Linked DNA regions of Homo sapiens: region 2 is linked to region 1. The links come from fine-mapping of genetic effects on gene expression. A gene starts in region 1. The other region holds a variant in brackets. All regions are shown on one strand. Distances are between the middles of the regions.

Region 1 (2,900 bases):
TTGGGTGCATTGTATCATTTTGCTCTACAATGACTATATCCTCATTTGGGTTTATGGCCAGTTTATAATTAAAAGTAATCTTTACTTGCTTTGAGTGTAATGACTTGCATATTTTGTATCTTTCTATTTGCTACCTTTTCTACTGAACAATTTCTAGCTTTCTGAAGGGATGGAGTCAGTAAGCTTAAGGATTCAGAACTGGTTTTACCTGTGCTACGTGTTGTAGAAGTTGTGTGTGCAGCTTCTGCGGTAAAGGGAACAGCGTAGGGGTTTTATTTTATTCATTAGAGGTGGATCGGGGTGCTAATTTAGAGGACATCACATACTGGAACCAAACTTGTCCGAAGCTCTCACTGCAGAGTTAAGGCACTTTGGTAAAATAAATGTGCATCTAGGAAATGATCATGTGTACAGTAGGCATTGGATCATTCTCTTGCCCCTCTTTTACCTGCCCCTAATGCCTAAGCTACATTCGAAGTCCTGGAAAACCTGTAAGTAATTCCGCCTTTGGCCTACCTCCCCTCAGAAGAGGAAGGTGAGAGAGGCCAAACGTATGGAAAGACTATTCTTCAGGCTTGCAGGAGTCACGGATGTCCTGATGTCTGTCTCCGTAGGATGTGGCCCACATCAGTTCGCATTCACCTTCTTGCAGCAAGGCAGCTGCTTAGCAGACAATGGGCGCTCCAGTGAGCGGGGTTTATAAAAACCCGAAGCCCCGGTTCATGATGGAGCCCCCTTTTCCAGCTGAGCAAGCTCAGGGATTTCCTGGGTAGGTTTTTCCAGGCTCTGCCTCACCGAAGGAATTTTAGGAGTGTCTCTGGGGAACAGGAGGGACGTAACCCAGCCCCAACTTGAGGGCGCTAGAGGTGCGGCAAGGGGTCGCGACGCCAGGAGCCCGGGGCTCGGCGGGAAGGTATGAGAAGCTCCTACGTGAACTCCACAAGCCGGGCCCGGGAGACGCCGGGCGAGGCGGGGTTGACCTCAGCAGTCTCTGCCCCGTTCCAGCCAATCAGTCCCGCATCTTAGCATCCGAATCCAGGACCCCCGAAGCCGGAGGCGACGCGAGCCAATGAGGAGTGGGCCGGGGAAGAGGGACAGGCGGCCAGCCTATGGGGCGGAGAGGCCCGGCCGCGCGTATCCAAGGAGCGCCGCGCTCGGCTCGGGGGTGTGGCGCGCGCCGGCGGGGGTGGGCGGGCGCGCCGGGCGGCAGGTGTCGGCGTCGGCGGCATTCGGCGGCGATGGAGCGGCCCTGGGGAGCTGCGGACGGCCTCTCGCGCTGGCCCCATGGCCTCGGCCTCCTCCTCCTCCTGCAGCTGCTGCCGCCGTCGACCCTCAGCCAGGACCGGCTGGACGCGCCGCCGCCGCCCGCTGCGCCGCTGCCGCGCTGGTCTGGCCCCATCGGGGTGAGCTGGGGGCTGCGGGCGGCCGCAGCCGGGGGCGCGTTTCCCCGCGGCGGCCGTTGGCGTCGCAGCGCGCCGGGCGAGGACGAGGAGTGCGGCCGGGTCCGGGACTTCGTCGCCAAGCTGGCCAACAACACGCACCAGGTGAGCGGGCGCCGGGCCCGGGAGCCGCTCGGGTGCGAGGTGCCGCCCGCGTGCCCCTCCCGGCCCGTGCGCCCCGCGACTCCCGGAGGAGACCCCAGCCCTGCCGCGCCCGCGTCCCCCGGGCCGCAGCCCCGAAACTGCGGCGGGCGGGCGGGCGGAGTCGGGCCCGGGCGGCCGGCGGGGCTGTGTTTTGTCATAGGGGAGGCAATCTTAGACTTCCACCGCATTCTTTTTTTTTTTTTTAAGTTGTCAAAATCTCTTGAACATCGTTTTTCGTCTGTATAAATAATCAGGACCCAGTAACGCTGTTAGGCCCCAGGAAGGTGAAGGAGTAATTAACTCTTGAGCGCTTGCAGAAGTTGGGCTGCGCAGAAGCAAAGGTGTGTCCTCTCTGGGTCAGTACTTTCCGGGTGGGAGAGGCGGGAGTTCAGGAGGCCCGAAGCAGCGATCTGGTCACCGTGTTTTAATAGTTAAGGGGACTAGCTTGGAAATGAGATGGCAATATTTATGTGATCTCTTTTACTGCTTCAGATTTGACCTTCTGTCATGGTACGGAAGTCTGACTAGCATGTCTATATCCCGTGGTGACAAGATTTTCAATAGTTAAGAAACGCATTGCACATATTCTGCTTTGAGCCAGCTCTTGGTCAAAAGACTTTCAAAATTATGGGATTTCTGTCCCTGGGGACAAGCAGCTCAACCTTTGCACACTACTGGACTGACAAAACTAATTATTAAGAAAGTCCTGGTTCCTTGCTTCAGCACAACTTGGGCATCTTTCTCCTATTTCTCTAAAATTAACAATTTAATCCTTGCTAGCCACATTTGCATAATGTATTTTCAATTCTATATATTTTCTCCCTTGCCTGTTTTCCTCTTTCAAAGAAAATGAATTGCACTTGGGGGCAGAGATGGGTGGCCAAGGCTCTGTGCCAGCACTTGTCCTTCTGTAACCGTTTTTCAGCGTCAGCCAAGCCTCAGTCTCCCTTTGGACTGCCTGGTTATCTGGACCATACTTGTTACCTGTAATAGAATTCTCTGATCTGAGGACACAAGACACAAATATTCAGGAATAATTGTGCTTAGTGTATCCCGAGCAGCAGCTGTGTAAAGGTAGCCAAGCTAGTGCTGGAGGGTGAGACAGGTTGGGTAGAATGAGTACTGGGAAGTCTTCCTACTTGATGAGAAAAAAAAATCGAATAGACTTCCTTCTCACAGTGGGGGATTGAGAAAGGCTTTACAACACTAATGCTTAATTTATACTGGACCACTTCCTTCCTTGAGCTAGCTGGTCACAGCATTCTTGCTCCATATTTCAAATTCTTCTCTCGCTGGTTGACCTAACTTTAGGTCTGC
Region 2 (2,892 bases), 120 kb after region 1:
TATTTACAGCAACAACCAAACTGTACAATCTGATGGTTAGTACCAAGTTAGCATCCAGCATCTTTGTATTTTTTTTAAATCAAGTCATCAGTAGTAAAAACCAGTTAAATTTTTAACCCTTTGCAGGAATTGCTGAGGGGAGAAGACGGGGGAGAATCCACGGCAGAAAAGCCAGAGGCTGGCCTCACAAATGAGAAACAGGAGCCTTTCTTTCCTGCCCACAGCCTCTTTTTCTAGCCACCTGCTCCAGAAGGAAAGTCAGTGACAAGTCTGGAATACATGCTTGGAGTAAATGGTGACTCAGATGAAAAGCAGTCGGCAAAACTGAGGAGAGGGGAGGAGAGGTGGGGAGATGATGGCCTGGGGCAAGGGGAAGGGCGTCAAGCCCCCAAGCCAGGGCTGCTGGGAACACCCAGCCTGTGATGGCCATATCAGACCCCCGGGACTGGACACGAACCCATCCCAACACAAAAAGCAAATAAATAAAACAAATATATTAACTCTCTCTTCACAGGGAGCTGGGGTGGAGTCGGGGAGAAAGAGGAACAGGACCTGGTCCTTTGAAGAAGAGAGCCAATTCCAAGAAGGGGTTAAAAATAGAACATGTCTCAGAGGCCACAGCAGGTTAGACAAAGTAGCATTTGTCTGATTTTGGGGGGTGGGGTGGGTGAGTGGACACCAGAACCCAGACTTGAAACCTGTGCTTGATTGAGCACCCTCAGGGCAGCCGAGCCAGCACTGTGTTTACTCTTCCTCCCCCACCCACATCACAGCAAAGAAGCGCAACTTAACACATGACTGGCCTGCCCGGGGCGCGGGGCGGGCACGAAAAATGAAGCACTTTTGGGTCAGCAACTGAGCAAACACCTGGGCTGCCGCGCACGGCCAGAGTCCAGGAAAAGGAGAGGGGCTGGGGCTGCCCGACCCCCGCCTGGGGGCACAGGCTCCCCTGAAAATGTGTTCATGCAGCATTTGGGGGTCCAGGGGCGCTGAGTCCTTCTGCCCCCTCACCGGACAGGGCTTTTCCAGTTCCTGGGAGAGGCAGTGCGGGCAGGACGAGGCACACCCTTTGCCCTGGCCCCTCACCGTTCTGAGGCCTGCCCGGGTGCAGCCTGAAGGGTGTGAAGCCCTGGCTGCGTGTGGCTTTGTCCTTTCCTTTTGGTGATGGCGTATGAGGGGCAGGCCCCCCAGGAGTCCCTCTCCTCCCAGAGGCACAGCAGATGGGAAACTGAGGAGAGGCTGGGAAGCATCCTGGGAGGTCCTATCCTCTTTGGGAAGGGAAAGGGGAGTCAATTTCCAGCGTATAAAAAAAATGAATCCCTGAAGTCATGAAGAGTGGAGATCCTTTTTTAAATTCTTTTTTTCCTCTTTTCTGAAAAACTTTGTCTTGGAGATGTTGGCCCCAGGGGTCCAAAGTGCAGTGAGGGGAATGGTGGGGGGGG[A/GA]GTTGGCACTAGATGGCCTTAGGTGGGGTGAGTACCCCTCCCGGCAAGGCCCAGGCTCCTCAGATGGACGTTTCGTCGCTGCTGCGGGCAGGCGATGGGGAGCGGGGCAGGATAAAGCACAAGACAGGAGCAGGGCATGAGTGCGGCTGGGGAAGGGAAGGGAGCCTCGGGCGTAGGAACCACGGCCCAGGGTTAATGCAGGAAGTTAAAGAAGAGAAATCTGGAGAGGCAGGAAAGGAAAGTGGCAGAAAAGGCAGACAGAGGGTTAGTTGAAACAGAGGAGAGAGTGAAAGCTTTCACCAGACGAAGGAAACAGGAAAGCACCCCCAGCTCCCCATCCTCCCGCACTCTGCCCTAGGCTGGGCTGCGCCGCGTAGAGCCTAGGAGGGGTGGCCCTCCCCGCAAGGCACCATGGTTTGTGGGCACGGCATAGTAAGGGAGCTGGGCCAGTTCTGCCCATTTGTCCTCCAAATGCCATCCAGAGTCACCTGGGGAGGCCCGGAGGCAGCTCTGGGCCCAGGTGAGGCCTCCGAGGGGCTGCACCCCGTCCCGCCCACCCGGCCACACTCACTCGGAGCCTGACGAGTCCTCATCCACCGTGCCTGCCTTGATGCTCATGGCGATGGGCATGACCCCGTTCAGCTGCTCCTGGAGGCTCTGCCGGGGCGGTGGGCGGGGAGGGGGGCCTCCCCGGCTGCCCTCACTAGCGGAGGAGCCCCGGGAAGACCCTGTGCATTGCTCCAGGGGGAGCCGCAGGAGGCTGCTCTTCTCGCTGATGGTGGGCAGACACTTCTTCTTAAGGATGCCTGTGGGCCGGGGCGGGGCTGTGAGGTGCGGCCACAGGAGAATGTGAGGTATGAGGCTGCTGACTAGGGGAGCTCGGCAGCTGGGGGTGCCCCACTCACCTTTGTGAGGCTGGGCAGAAGAGCCTGGAAGGGGGCCTAGGGACCCCTCTCGAGACAGGGCATCTCCATTCTCCCGCAGCCGCTCCTCAGGGGCCCCGTTGCCACTACTCTCTTTTGCTGTGGTCCCAAAGTCTCCTGGCCAGGGGGCCTTGCCAGGCCCTGGGCCCCCATCTGGTGGGGAAAGGAAGTAGATGAGGCCCACAGAGGGCAGATAGCCAGGAGGCCACCACCCCAGTCCTGCTTCCCAAGAACCCCAGGCCCACTGTCCTCCCACTGGCCCCAAAGGCCACAGCCCCAGTGCTGGCCCACCCTTGGGAGTACTGTGCAGGGGCAGTCTCTCTGCTCCAGGCCCCAGCAGGCTATCCCAGCCCTGCTCTCCAGGGAAGGCGGCCTCCTCTTCCTCCTCCTCTTCTTCCTCCTCACTGTCTGATGAGTGGGTAGAGGCATAGGAGCCACTCTGGTCGTCTTCTAAGGACAGGTCACTGTCGGAGTCCGTGTCAGGATCTAGGAGGCCAGGGAGAGATCACAGCCAGCCCAGCCACCTC

Direction of the effects. Alleles are on the strand shown, and positions count from the first base shown. SD is a standard deviation of normalised expression in the study named.
For the expression in sun-exposed skin of the gene that starts at base 1,213 in region 1, allele A in region 2 goes with a lower level than allele GA (small effect, 0.20 SD a copy in GTEx).

What was found. PIP is the estimated chance that this variant, and not a neighbour inherited with it, causes the effect.
Region 2: its variant is fine-mapped to the expression of SORT1 in sun-exposed skin (GTEx, PIP above 0.99).

What each region holds. Positions count from the first base shown.
Region 1 is chr1:109,396,231-109,399,130 of GRCh38, reverse strand. SORT1 (sortilin 1) reads left to right here and starts at 1,213. Exons shown (of 20, transcript NM_002959.7): 1 at 1,213-1,544. The coding sequence starts at 1,239. It overlaps PSMA5 (proteasome 20S subunit alpha 5), which reads left to right. Exons shown (of 9, transcript NM_002790.4): 9 at 1-89. RefSeq lists an enhancer at 79-1,060 and silencers at 1,087-1,216, 1,257-1,326, 1,337-1,436.
Region 2 is chr1:109,272,792-109,275,683 of GRCh38, reverse strand. It overlaps CELSR2 (cadherin EGF LAG seven-pass G-type receptor 2), which reads right to left. Exons shown (of 34, transcript NM_001408.3): 31 at 2,657-2,851; 32 at 2,348-2,518; 33 at 2,014-2,248; 34 at 1-1,662. The coding sequence ends at 1,635. Among named protein-coding and RNA genes, the nearest start is that of PSRC1, 8.9 kb to the left of the region's middle. RefSeq lists cis regulatory regions at 716, 701-720 and an enhancer at 1-1,432. The variant A/GA (reference allele first, on the strand shown) is at 1,443.